Linked DNA regions of Homo sapiens. The protein of the gene in region 1 purifies or fractionates together with the protein of each later gene. This does not show direct contact. Each region holds a gene or a part of one and is shown in the gene's direction. Other genes may lie near its edges.

The links. Proteins that work in one complex are often made in the same cells at the same time.
Region 2: the proteins of GPR161 (region 1) and JPH1 purify together in Homo sapiens (affinity purification with mass spectrometry; one large-scale study listed by BioGRID and IntAct). This does not show direct contact.
Region 3: the proteins of GPR161 (region 1) and LMBR1 purify together in Homo sapiens (affinity purification with mass spectrometry; 2 studies listed by BioGRID and IntAct, with this or other methods). This does not show direct contact.
Region 4: the proteins of GPR161 (region 1) and GOLGA5 purify together in Homo sapiens (affinity purification with mass spectrometry; 2 studies listed by BioGRID and IntAct, with this or other methods). This does not show direct contact.

What each region holds. Positions count from the first base shown.
Region 1 is NC_000001.11:168,126,931-168,130,430, reverse strand, and holds part of GPR161 (G-protein coupled receptor 161), read left to right. Parts: intron 1-3,500. UniProt on the Homo sapiens protein: Key negative regulator of Shh signaling, which promotes the processing of GLI3 into GLI3R during neural tube development.
Region 2 is NC_000008.11:74,234,541-74,238,040, reverse strand, and holds the end of JPH1 (junctophilin-1), read left to right. Parts: intron 1-737; coding exon 738-818; 3' UTR 819-833; exon of another isoform or gene 834-1,005; 3' UTR 1,006-3,341; downstream 3,342-3,500. UniProt on the Homo sapiens protein: Junctophilins contribute to the formation of junctional membrane complexes (JMCs) which link the plasma membrane with the endoplasmic or sarcoplasmic reticulum in excitable cells.
Region 3 is NC_000007.14:156,883,184-156,886,683, reverse strand, and holds part of LMBR1 (limb region 1 protein homolog), read left to right. Parts: intron 1-3,500. UniProt on the Homo sapiens protein: Putative membrane receptor.
Region 4 is NC_000014.9:92,832,305-92,835,804, forward strand, and holds part of GOLGA5 (golgin subfamily A member 5), read left to right. Parts: intron 1-817; coding exon 818-1,043; intron 1,044-3,254; coding exon 3,255-3,360; intron 3,361-3,500. UniProt on the Homo sapiens protein: Involved in maintaining Golgi structure. Stimulates the formation of Golgi stacks and ribbons. Involved in intra-Golgi retrograde transport.

The sequences.
Region 1 (3,500 bases):
GGTGATCCCCAGCAGCTCTGGCAAGGGGGAAAGCTGCAGGTTCAAATCCAATGTGAAAGGGGAACTGTCCTTCTCCCAGCTGTTTCAGCAACACTGTTGTTACATCAAAGGAAGTTCGAAGATGCTGATTGGCGAGGCATAGGTCATGTGTCCACATCCATGAAGCCACATGGATGTGGTGTGTGAAAAGGGTGGGTCTCCAGAGGAGCAACTGCTGGACAAGGGTAAGAGATATCGAGGAGGCCGACAGTTAATTTCCTCTGTAGATGAGAAAGGAAGAAATAGTGCCCCAGAGGGCATCTTGGAAAACTGCAGCGCTTACAGGGTAGGATGATTAGCAGGTAAGCAAGACTGGTAAGGAACTAAAGGACGGAGAGACAGGAGAGAGGAGCTCAGGGAAGACAAGGGAAGAGGGAGTCTCAAAAAAATGAAAGGAGTCAGAAGTGTCAGATGCTGCAGAGAGCTCAATAAGGGCCCATTGGGTTTGGCTAGGATGTTAGGGTGACCTTGCCCAAAGCAAAGAGAGTCATTTATTTTGACTTTGGCTAGGACTACCCTCTAGAGGGTTCCTGTGCCTACCTGTCTTCTGCATTGCCCACCCCAGCCCTGGGTTGGCCAGGTAAGGGCAGAGGTATAGTGATGGCAGTCAGGAAATTTGTGCTTTGTCAGTAATTAGGTCTATGACTATGGGTAACTCATTTCAGCCCCTTGGGCTTTCATTTTGTCATCTGTAAAATGATAGACTAGAATGAATTACTCTGAAGGCCTCTTTTAGCTCCAAAATGTTGGCGTCTTTAAGGAGATTAGTGAATCTAAACATTTCTTAACACTTCTGTTACCATGACCCTGGTCCAAGCCTTTGTCTCTACTTGGGCCATAGCCGTGGCCTCCTAACTGGGGTCCCTGCCTCCACACTTGCCCCTTGCAGTCCCCCCTTCACCCAGCAGCAGGCACAGTGACCTCTTGAAAGTGTAAGTCAGTCATGTCTCTCCAGTGGCTTCCTCTCACATGTAGAATCCAGTCCACACTCTTTCTCCAGGCCTGCAATGCTTTTTGTAATCTGGCCCCCGACTGTCTCCAAAGTCTGCTGTTCTCTTCTTCACTCCTCTCCAGCTTTCTTGCTAATCCTTAAACACGCCGAGCTCATTTCAGCCTCAGGGCTTTGCAAGGGCTCTTCTCTGGCCTGCCTGAGGTTCCCTCGCATCATTTTCTGGTCTCTGCTCAAATGTCATGTCCTTGGAGAGCCTTCCCTGATGACCCACCCCTGACCCAGACACCCATTCCCTCTCTGCTTACCCTGTTTGATCTTTCTTTACAGTACCTACTACCCAGAATTGTTTCCTATTTTTTAAATTTATTTGTTTACTGTCTGTATCCCCACCTCCAAAATGTAAGCTTCAGGATAGGAGAGATTTGAACATGTCTTGTTCAGGGCTATGCCCCAGCTGTAGAGTTGAGCTGGGCACAGAGCAGCTCTTCAATAAATGTATTTTGTGTAGCTCAGTGAGGAATGGGAAAACAAGAATATAGGAGTGTCCAGAAACCAGTGGCAGTATGGCTATCATGGTGAGGGAGGGAGGGGACAGCCCTGTGCCTGAGGCATCCATCTCACATATGGCCATCAGAAAAAAATGTACTCCTTTCAGCTATTTAAAAATAATATAGTTTTAGGAATATGGGCTTAGTTTGCCTGGCTTGATGAGGATAATAAATAAAAAATAATTAAGGGTAAAAACTAATTCACGTAGTCATTATTTTTTATCTTGTGATAGAAGTAATCATCTCAGTCTTGTTCTCAGCACAGCTTCCATCTCTTGTCTTCTCAGAGCATGTGTATGTTATGGAAGGGCTTGTTTTATTTTTCTTGATCTGTTTATTAAGTACATACAGTAAAAAACAGAATGAGAAGAATGAACCCAAATTGTTTGTGTAGAGCAGGTTTTCTCAACCTCGGCACTACTGACGTTTTTGACCGGATAATTCTCTGTTGTTGGGGGCTATCTTGTGTATTGTAAAATGTTTAGCAACATCCCCAGCCTTAGGTGCCAATAGCATCCCCCAGGTGTGACAACCAAAAATGTCTCCAGGCATTTCCAGAGGTGCGGGATCTGGAGAATGGGGATTGAGAATCAGTGATGTAGGATAGTGAGGTAGGGAGTGGGTTTGATTATTATCCAGTGTCTACTGCTTGGATATTTTCAGACCCTCCCCAGCTAACCTCATTCTTTTCACTGATATCATTTCAGCTCTTCTGCTTAAAAAGAAAATATATGCAATTTCAGGGAAGGGGTTTTGAGCCAAAGGAAGCATGGAATATCAGCCCCACAGTTACAGGTGGAGGTAAATTAAAATTTCATATTTCTCAGTCAGCTGCTTACCTGGGTGCCCACAACCCTCAGCCTGAGCATCTGTGTGGTAGCTGCAGCAGCTCAGTTCTGGGAGGGGGCATCTTCCTATAGTGGGGCTTTAAATCTTCAGGCCCTGAGCCCCTTATGGAGTCAAAGACACTTCCACTTTGCATTCTCTTGCAATGCATCTTTTCTGTCTTCCATTTCATCTCTTCCGCATCAACAAGTAGTTGATATGCTCTGGCTGTGTTCCCAGCCAAATCTCATCTTGAATTGTAACTCCCACAATTCCCATGTGTCATGGGAGGAACCCAGTGGGAGGTGATTGAATTATGGGAGCGGGTGGGTCTTTCTTGTGCTGTTCTCATAGTGCATGAGTCTCATGAGATCTGATGGTTTTAAAAATGGGAATTTTTGCCTGCTGCCATCCATGTAAGATGTGACTTGCTCCTCCTTGCCTCCCAGCCATGTGGAACTGTAAGTCCATAAACCTTTTTCTTCCCAATCTTGGGTATGTTTTTATCAGCAGCATAAAAACAGACTAATACAGTAGTTGAATGAAACCTCTCTGTCTTTAACTAAATTTTTTTTTTTTTAATGAGATGGAGTCTCACTGCATCACCGAATCTGGAGTGCAGTGGCGCCATCTTGGCTCACTGCAATGCCCACCTCCTGGGTTCAAGTATTCTCCTGCCTCAGCCTCCAGAGTAGCTGGGATTACAGGTGCCCACCATCATGCCTGGCTAATTTTTGTATTTTTAATAGAGACAGGGTTTCACCATGTTGGTCAGGCTAGTCTTGATCTCCTGACCTTAGGCAATCCACCTGCCTCAGCCTCCCAAAGTGCTGGGATTACAGGTGTGAGCCACTGTGCCCGGCCAGCTTGAATTAAAATTTGAAAGGGAAAAAAAGAATTGAGTTTTCTTTTCATGTCTTAAGTAATTTTTGTAAACATTCCTTGAGTTTATCTTCTGACAACCTTTTTGCTCGTACTTTTACCCTCATTACCTCGTAGATTCCTCTTGGCAGTTGTATAAAGTAGAGTATATCTACTCTCTTTTTTGTCTTAGGAGAAATTGAGTCTCAGAGAGATTAAGAGACACACACACAGTCACAGGGAATTCAGACCTGGGTTTGGTAAAGATTCCAAGG
Region 2 (3,500 bases), on another chromosome or scaffold:
TATGAGGTTGGTTTGTTTAAACAAGTAAAAATTTGGGGCCCTTGGACAACTATCTGGTATTTATTATAATGATATTTATCAAAATAGGATCCCATAGTTTGTAAAATATAACTTCATTTCTGAAATGTTGTGGTTGTGATTAGAGAAATTTGAAAAGCTGGGCCTGTAAGATAACTTCTGAAAGTATCCAACTTCTCACTTACAGCTTTTACTTAACGGAAAGGGTGGTGTCCAAACAGAGGACCAGGGAAAAAGCAAGAGGTAGAGAACCTCGTTTTGAGTTTTCCCTGAATTGTTCCTTGGAGGTGGCTTTGTCCTACAGATTTTGCTCTCGTGTTCTAACTGCCCTGTGGAGGAAGCAGCTCTTCCTCATCTGAACTGCATTCTAACAACAAATGCACGTCTAACTCCCAGCCGTTCGTAGGCCCTGTTAGGGTGAGCTGTGTCTCAGCACACGCTGTTGTCCATTGTTTTGAGGTGAATGAAGTGGATCAGTTGTTTAAAACGTTTTTAAACTAATTCAAGCCTGGATTCATTTTTAAGTGAAGGTTCTGAAATGTCTCCATCTAAACATAGCATTGCCGTTTTTAGTCTACACCTTTCCGAACTGCTGTCATCTTTTATGCCTTATTTACTGCAATCATGTTAACTTTCTCATTTTTTCAGTAATTGGCTTTGGTAATATCTTGATATTAACATGGAGAAGTTATAGTTACTTTGTTCTCTTTCATTTTCAGGGCCCTAATTCAATCATGATTGTCCTTGTCATGCTGTTGAATATCGGGTTGGCCATTCTTTTTGTTCACTTTCTAACTTGATTGGAATTAGGAAAGGTAAGAATCGCCTTAATTTCTATCTAAAATCATAGTAAATAACATTCTTTTCTCATATGCAAATTTGCTATTTTTTTTAACAATGACGTATTGTCCTTCACTTTAATTTTGGCTATGCCTGAATGTGATTCAACATAGTTACTTAATTGCTATAACTGTTTTGACCCTTCAGTGAAGTCCTGACAACTAGTGGTGTGTTAGCCCACAGTTCTCTGCAGTGGTGCCGTCAGCCCTTTAAATGGCCCACCCCAGGCAGACTCAGACACAGGGAAGGAGGCTTGGAATTAGGATGGGATCGCGAGAGAGATGAAACTTGGAAAATTCAGCCAGAGGACCTGTTCGGTTCCCCTGGGAGTGCTTTGTGGCTTTGGGGTCCTCTGGGAGCTGAAGCACACGGCCATGTTGGAGAGCAAAACTTAATAATAATTCTTTTTTAAAATCTGCTGAAGCAGCCCCATCCGGCGAAGTTCTTGGCATTGGCTACTCCATCTGTCCTAGCAGAGTGTGACTAAACTGGAAATGTATGGAGCTGCATTTTTTTTTTTTTTTTGATGGAAGTCAACAGCTGCCTTACTATTTTACCATCTGACGTTTTTAGTAGGGAGCTGGGGAAACGACTGCCCGAGGAATGCGGTCGGAGGATTGTGTTGCTGTGGACGTGGTTCCAACATTCACTCCTATCTCATTAGAAGAAATAGGTAGCAGCATCACTCACCAGTCTTATGCCATGACCTGCTGCTTTAACATCTCCTGGAATGTTCTGGGAGAGAACGTTTCGTTTGCTTGTGCACGACTCTGTTCATTTTTGCTGTTTATTTAAATCTGACGTATAGTCATCTACCACCTGCGGTCCTGGCCGGACGAAACACACGTGTTGCATCTCAAGGAAAAGAAACAACAAAATGCTAGTGAAAATGTGCTTATTTTGATAGCAATATACCATCTTTTATGTCATTTATTCTTCCTATACTTGTAAAAGGTTATTTATCTTTAAAATTTAGCAATTTGAAGACACTATGCCTTCCTAAGAACTAATTTAATTCTAAATATTTTTAACATTACTGAGGTGAATTATTTATGCACTTAGGAAGTGCTAAATTTTAAAAGCTGAAACACAACAGAATTCTAAGAAATATAGTCCAAACGTTGCATGGATTGCAGTAATCAGTGTTTAAAGGATTCAGTTTCTTTGCTGACGTACTTTACAACCAAATAAAATCTTGTCGGTGGCTGTGTTAATTCCCATGAAAGTTAAGCAAGATGCTATTAATAAACTGCTCTGCTCTTTCTTGTTTTCTTTTTCCAACTTAAATTTCTGTTGAATACATTCAGGTAGAACATAAAGCCTTGTTCAATCACTGCCTCTCAGTTTTCTGCCTTTCCTGTTTTTCAAAGTCCTTTTGTAATTTCATTTCACATTTTAAAGGCTTAGACATTTTTATTTTAAATATGTGTCTTTTACAGTCTTTTGTCATTCTGACATTTCTGGATTTTTGCTGTTTTATAATTTACCCTTTGTTATTCAGAAGCATGCTTACTTATAGAAACTAAATGGTCTTTATAAAAGTAATTACTTAAAAAGAAATCAGGGGAAGAAAGATATCTATCTAATCTATTAAATCTTTATAAAACATTACATTGCAGAGGGGGAGCTACTCCTAAATATTTTCATGATTTGCATGGTTTAATCAGATTTTTTTTTTTTTTTACACCATATTAGCTACCTTTTCAATGGAGAAGAGACAGTTCACACAATTCCCTGGTTAGCACAGATGTGGACTGAGTGCTTTGTCACCTGCAGGGTAGTAACCCAGTGATGTTTCTTACAGAAGCACAATATGTTGAAAATCCTGGGTGTGACCAATATGGAATAAAGAAGAAGGCAGAAAGAGAGCAAATGAAAAATTTCAACTTGTATATTCATTTTTTACATTTTGCTTTGACTTTTAAATTTAGGAAGTCCGTTTTTACCTGAGAACAAATGTTTAAAGTTCCTGCGTCACTCTCAGTACTCTCACTGCCCCTCCCAAACCCTATAGCTCCTTACGCTGGGAAAGCTGGTTTTTTAAAAAAATAATAATAAAATATTTAATCTTATTAAGTGTTCATTTAAAATGCGTAATGCTTTGGAAATAATGGGTAACAGATAGCGAGAGGATATGTTTATAAAGTGAGCATGTTGGTCCCATTTATAAATATATGTATGATTTATAAGCTTTTTTAAAACAAAGCTCAAATTGTTGGTATTTTTCTAAAATGTGCACAGCTGTATTTTACATGAAGGCTCTTTCTAATGGGTTGTTATACTGTACTCAACATTTTGGACAGCACATGAAGTCTGCCAATGTACTTAATAAAACATGACTTTGTTTATTTAAAGTTTCTTGCTGTGAAAAAGAACTCCCTACCTGTGAGTTCCTTTATTTATAATTCTTGAAACCAAAATGTATAATGTACAGTTTTCACAACTGTATCTGCTCTAATAAAAAAAAGTTGGTTATTAATGAAGTTGGAGGTGTGTTTTCTTTGTGAGTAAATTACTGTCTTGAGTTATGTGGAATACTTTGGTGGTGGTGTTGAAAGAGATCTGCTGAAAAATTAACAGCAGAAATAGAAGGAAAAAATGCTCAAAGAAGCCATGTGCCAGAAGGTAGTTATACTGCTCCA
Region 3 (3,500 bases), on another chromosome or scaffold:
TCCAGATAAGCAATATTAAGATAACTGCAGCTCACTCACTGCCAGACCCTAAGTGATCCCCACTCTCCTGTTCCACAAGCCATAACTATAGCTTTGATTGGACAAGAGACTGATTTCAGTAACTTTCTCCTGATAAGAGCACTGAGCATGAACTGGTTCTGGCCAGTTTACAGAGGCTGTGCACTTCAGTGCCTTCATGTCCCTGCTTCGCCATCTGACTACAGGGCCTCATTGTAATCCTTTTAGATGTTAAGTCTCCACCCACAAGTGAATATGGATAAGTATGTAACATACATGTTTATTCAGCCTGCATGTGCATGACCTCCCCCACTTTGTGAATATTCATAGCTCCTCCTATAACCTGTTAAATATATAAACTTGGCCAACCCGTTCAGCATAAATCCCTGTTCTATCCTCCCTTGAAGGTCTGTTTCTGTGCTCTGCGGGAGGATGCTTCCCAGCTATCAGGATTGCCACCTTGTAGGCTGTGACTCTTTACAAAATTATTTTTGAGGCAGAGTGTGGTTCCGTCACTCAGGCTGGAATGCTGTGGCACAAACACGGCTTACTGTAGCCTCTATCTCCCAGGCTCAAGAGATCTTCCTACTTGAAGGAAGTCTTTTTTTTTTTTTTTTTCTTTTTTTGAGGCAGAGTCTCACTCTGTCACCCAGGCTGGAGTGCAGTGGCACTATCTCAGCTCACTGCAACCTCTACCTCCTGGGTTCAAGCAATTCTTGTGCCTCAGCCTCTTGAGTAGCTGGGATTACAGGTGCCACCACCATGCCTGGCTAATTTTATTTATTTATTTATGATATGGAGTCTCTGTCACCCAGCCTGGAGTGCAGTGGCACAATCTCGGCTCACGATAACCTCTGCTTCCCGGGTTCAAGTGATTCTCCTGCCTCAGCCTCCCAGTAGCTGGGATTATAGGTGCCTGCCACCATGCCCGGCTAATGTTTTTGAATTTTTAGTAGAGGCAGGGTTTTACCATGTTGGCCAGGCTAGTCTCAAACTCCTGACCTCAAGTGATCCTCCTGCCTTGGCCTCCCAAAGTGCTGGGATTACAGGTGTGAGTCAATGCGTCTGGCCATTTTTGTATGGACGGGTTATTTCCGTGTTACCCAGACTGGTCTTGAACTCTCCTGGCCTCAAGTAATCCTCCTGCCTCAGCTTCCCAAAGTGCTAGAATTAGAGGTGTGAGCCACCATGCCTGGCCTGGCTGCGCAATCTAAATTCTTCCTTATCCTGGGTATGGCTTAAGCTCCCCTCTTGGCTAGAATATTTTTGGAACCAAGTCTGGGGTTGACTGGGACTTTTTTTTTTTTTTCTTTTACACGGAGTCTCGCTCTGTCACCGAGGCTGGAATGCAGTGGAGCGATCCTGGCTCACTGCAACCTCCGCCTTCCAGATTCCAGTGATTATCCTGCCTCAGCCTCCCAAGTAGCTGGGATTACAGGCGCCTGCCACCATGCCTGGCTAATTTTTGTATTTTTAGTAGAGATGGGGTTTTGCCATGTTGGCCAAGCTGGTCTTGAACTCCTGACCTCAGGTGATCCGCCCCTGCCTCGGCCTCGCAAAGTGCTGGGATTACAGGCATGAGCCACCGTGCCCAGCCAGACTGGGACTTACACAACAGAGATTTTAGAACCTTCCCATTTAGTTGGCTCCTTTTAGGCCAAATGGGAGGTGGGGAGATAATGGGGATAGAAGTATCCTTCATCTACTGCCTCTCTAGATGAGTTTACCTGCTGTTTTCTACTGGTGTCTTGCCCTCAACTCTATGGCTTACCCTTTATGCAGGAGATAAAAAACTTTAGTCCTTCCCACTTGGGAATAGTGGTTGGGCAGAAGGTGGGAACCAATCACCAATCTTGTATGTAAGTTCAGAATGCAGTTATCTTGGAGTCTGTAGTCTTCTGACCTTTGTCATTGCCCTCCAGTGAAAGACCTCCAAGAGCACACCTGTAGTTGGACAAATTGGGCTTATTGCATATTTCAGTGAGTTCCATGGGGAACTGTGGGGTGTTTCAGTAACTTTTCAAATGGGATTTGGGCTTCTACTAGGTAGTTTGGGAAGGGTTTAAGGAAGTGAGGCTTTGATCTGTATGGGGTGCTGTTAGGAAGCTGGAAAAATTCTGTAACTGGATAGCTTAAGAAATCTTTTCTAGAAGGAAAGAAGACTGGAATAAAGCTAAAGCTGTAACTGGTAAAGAAGCAACAGTCATTCCTGTTAGCCAGGATAGAGAGTTGGTCATTTCTGTGATTTGGACAATGTTCATGTTTTTTTTTTTGCTTGTGTTCAGGAGTGATTACAGAGTGGTCTTGTTTAGTCTTTATCCATCATGGTCTTGTCTGATATTGATGTTCTCTGAAATTGTTGATGTTCAGCAGAAGAGTCAGTCATCAAGGCCTAGGTGTGTGCCTTGCTCTGAGTTGTTAGCCAGTTTACAGCAACACCAAGGCCCAGCTGTGATATTACCAGGCCAGCTCCCAGATGTCAGGGGCTGCATTTCTTTTTCTCACGTGGTTGTAAAGTCTTCTAGTGGAATGATGTATTAGAAACAAATCCAATAGCCAACATAAGTTGAAGTGATTTTCTAACATAGAAGAGCAAAAAGGAATGGGATAGAGGTATAGAGGTTTCATTTGTATTTGACTTTTCTAAACTGGGTTAAATCAGCTTCCCCTCTGCGGTAGGCAGCATAATGGCCCCTGAAGTTGGTAATCCATGTGGTAATCCCTGGAGCCTGTGGTGTGTTACTTTACATGGGTAAAGGGATTTTGCAGATGTGAGTATGTTAAAGGAGAATTACCCTGAATTATCCAGGTGGGCTCTATGTGGTCACAGGGTCCTTATAGGAGAGGCAGGAGGGTCAGAGTCAGAGGAGATGTGATGACAGAGGCAGAGTTGGAGTGATGCCCTTTGAGGAAGGAGGAGGGACCATGAGCCAAGGAGTGTGGGCGGCCTCCAGAAGCTAGAAACGTCAAGGAAATGAATTCTTTCCTAGAGTCTCCAGAAGGAAGCAACCTTGCTCACGCCTTGATTTTAGCCCAGTGAAACTCAATAAATTTGTGTTGTTTTAAGTCACAAAGTTTGTGTAATTTGGTTACAGCAGCCATAGGAGATTCCTACTCCTTCATCAGGAGGCTTTGACTTTCACTGCTGTCCCTGTATATCTTACCACTCCATAGTTGTGTACTTGAGGTTAAAGGAAACTGGGACATTCTAATTACATTTGAGATAATTTTTCATGTCTTCCTATTCTGTCCTCCTTTTTTTTTTCTGAGATGGAGTCTTGCTCTGTTGCCCAGGCTGGAGTGCAGTGACATGATCTTGGCTCACTGCAGCCTCCGCCTCCCGAGTTCAAGCAATTCTCCTGCCTCAGCCTCCCAAGTAGCTGGGATTACAGGTGTGCACCACCACACCTGGCTAATTTTTGTATTTTCAGTAGAGACAGGTTTCACCTGTTGGCCAGGGTGGTCTTGAACTCCAGACCTCA
Region 4 (3,500 bases), on another chromosome or scaffold:
AATTTGTGGGGAGTGCTGTAAGGGATTTATAAGAAAGAAAGGCAGGTGGAGCCTAGATAAGAGAAGGGGATTGAGTTTCCAAACAGAGGAAACGTGGCCGGCATAGCGGAGGCTGGAGGAGAGTAGAGGGAGATGGAGACAGATAAGACCAGATGGAAGATGGAATGAAGGAAGTCGTTAAGTATCAACTTTCAGCCAGAGTCTCCTAGGACAACTATCATTTACTGTCCCTAAATACCATGTGCAACGGGTGCTGTCATCTTCACTAACAGATGAGGAAACAGATTCAGAGAAGTATAGCAATTAACCTGAAGTCAAATAGCTTGAAAATTGCAGAGCAGAGATGAAAACCTCAGAGTGTGATCTTTGCACTGCACCGTAACTGTTGAATGACGGAGGCTTTTGAATCCCTGTTGAAAAGTGTGGATTGTGTCCTCTAAACCCATGCTTTGAAATACTTTGACCATGACGCCTCAGTGAGAAAAACAGTTTACATCGTGTCTCAGTACTGACATGCACTTACATGTACCAAACTGAAACAGGAGTTTCACAAAATTATACTTTTATATATACTATATGTTACATAAATATCAGAATATGTCCCATTCTATTACATTTTCTAAAATGCTGATTTTGACCCACCAAATTGATTTCATGACCCCAGTTTTTGAAAATCACTTTTGTAGACATTGAGTCAGTATAGAGTTTTGAGAAATCAATGAATGCCACAATTTACCTATGAAAATGTAGTAGTGTGATTTCTGTATTGTATGACTTTCATTTTATGTAAGAATTTTGTGAACACTTTCTCTTTCAGCTTACCAATAAAACTTTAAGCAATAGCAGTCAGTCTGAGTTAGAAAATCGACTCCATCAGCTAACAGAGACTCTCATCCAGAAACAGACCATGCTGGAGAGTCTCAGCACAGAAAAGAACTCCCTGGTCTTTCAACTGGAGCGCCTCGAACAGCAGATGAACTCCGCCTCTGGAAGTAGTAGTAATGGGTCTTCGATTAATATGTCTGGAATTGACAATGGTGAAGGTAATCAAAAAAGGAATCTCAAAAGAACATTTCATTCAAACATGCTTTTGAAAAGTTATAGAAGGACTATTTTTATTTGAAAGAAACTTCATCCAGTGAAGGACTCAATTTTCTGATATGAGACCTGGGCCACGTACTGTTTAGTATTGTTAGTGAACCGGATAATGGACTAATTAATATTCCTCACCAGTATTAGACTTGGGGAAAGTAGTCTGAGGATTGATAATTATATTGTAATGTCTGAGACACTTAACAAGATGATGCTGACAAGGCGAGGAATTCAGTAGAGAGGAGCTTTCAGGACACTTGAAACAAGATTTGCTTTAATAATCTTCCAGTAAATAGTTACGGGTATTAGAGCTAATACATAGTTCACATAACCATATCTAAAGAAATCTATAGATTCCCAACATATGTAATTAAAAAATAATGTGTAAGATAGTATAAGCATCAACAGATCAGATTTTTAATCTTGGAACTTCGTAAAGTCTACAAATTGTCATTCAGCAAATTTCTCAGTTCTTTGGCTTTAAATTATTTCTTTTAATAAAAAAAATTGTTTAAGAGACGCTGGGTGCCAGGTATGGGGATGGCACTGTAATTTAAAAAGGGTGATCAGGAAGACCTCGTTGAAAAGTGTCACTTCTTTTTTTTTTTTAATGTATAATTATCATTTTATTTGTAATTGTTAATTACAAGTAAAAATGAAATTATAAATAAGTAAATCATACTCCTTAATGGCATAAATAAAAAGTGCCTCGCTTAAATTAATAAAATTTTCCTGACCATAACTTCTGTGATTTTTTTAAGGGTTTTCAGTTTCTTTTAGGTTTCACCTTTTTTTTTTTATTTTATTTTTTTATTATTATTATACTTTAAGTTTTAGGGTACATGTGCACAATGTGCAGGTTAGTTACATATGTATACATGTGCCATGCTGGTGTGCTGCACCCATTAACTCGTCATTTAGCATTAGGTCTATCTCCTAATACTATCCCTCCTCCCCCCTCCCCCAGCCCCACAACAGTCCCCAGAGTGTGATGTTCCCCTTCCTGTGTCCATGTGTTCTCATTGTTCAATTCCCACCTATGAGTGAGAACATACGGTGAAAAGTGTCACTTCTTTAAAGTCCCAAAGGAGGTAAGATAGTGAACAATGAGGAGGCATAGAAAAAAAGTGTTCCAGGCAGAAAGAAGAGCAGGCACAAAGGCCTTGAGGCAGGCATGTTCCTGGCATATTTCAGGAACAGCAAGGAGGCCAAGGCCTCTGGAGTAGACTGAGTGAAGAAGACACTTGTGTAAGATGAATCCAGAGAGCTTAGAATAGGCCGTTGAGGCCTGTATGGGGACTTTTACTCTGAATGAGGTAGGAAGCCATTGAAGGATCTTGAGAGGGGGGACTGATCTGACTTGCACCTTAATAGGCTGCCTCTGACTGCCATGTCAAGAATAGACTGCACAGGGCTAAAAGTGGAAGCAGGGAGACAGGGCAAGAGGAGGCCGGAGGTGGGTGGGTAGCCATTGCATTAATCCATGTGAGAGATGGTAGTCTAGAACTGAGTGGGATTGTGAAGGTGGACTGAGAATTTATTTTAAAGGTAAGCTGACAGAATATGTTGGCAGATGAGATACGGAGTTTGAGAGAAAGAAGTCAAGAGTTTTGGCCTGAGCAGATGGAAGGATTGGAATTGTGATGTCCTGAGACAGGGAAATGGCAGCTGAGGCAGGTTGACAGCGAGGACAAGAACTCTGAATTGTAGTGTTAGGCAGGCTTTGGGGTGCCCGTTAGATATCTGGATGGAAGCGAATAGGCAGTTGGATGAGTCTGGCAGGGGATGAAGCCTCTGGGCTGGAGTACACATTTGGGAGTCCTCTGCTTCATAGAAAGACCACCCGGCCTCACTCCTCCTCACATAGGAACAAAGGGCCCATTAATATTGACTCTTGTCAACGCTTAGTATTTGTAAATTTCTTAATTTTTGCTAAAATCATTTTCTTATTTAAAACTTTTTTCTTGTTGTGGATATGGATGTTTAAATATTTATGTCATCAAATTTACCTGTCCTTTCTTTATAGTTTCATCTACTTTGGGGTGATGCTTAGAAAGTTGCCCTTGAAAATTCCTTCCACATGTAATACAGTGTATTTCCAATTATAATTGTCTTAGTTAATTTTTATGTCAGTACACTAATTTATTTTCTTATTTAAACAGGCACTCGTCTGCGAAATGTTCCTGTTCTTTTTAATGACACAGAAACTAATCTGGCAGGAATGTACGGAAAAGTTCGCAAAGCTGCTAGTTCAATTGATCAGTTTAGGTAAGCAATGCCAGTAGGGATGAGTGATGGACCATCAGCTGTTTTTACGTTTTTCAGGGTTTCAATCACAGTGACTCCCATCAGGCAGAGTCTATATTTAAAGTGACTTACTCCTTTCAAGATATTTTATACTTATATAC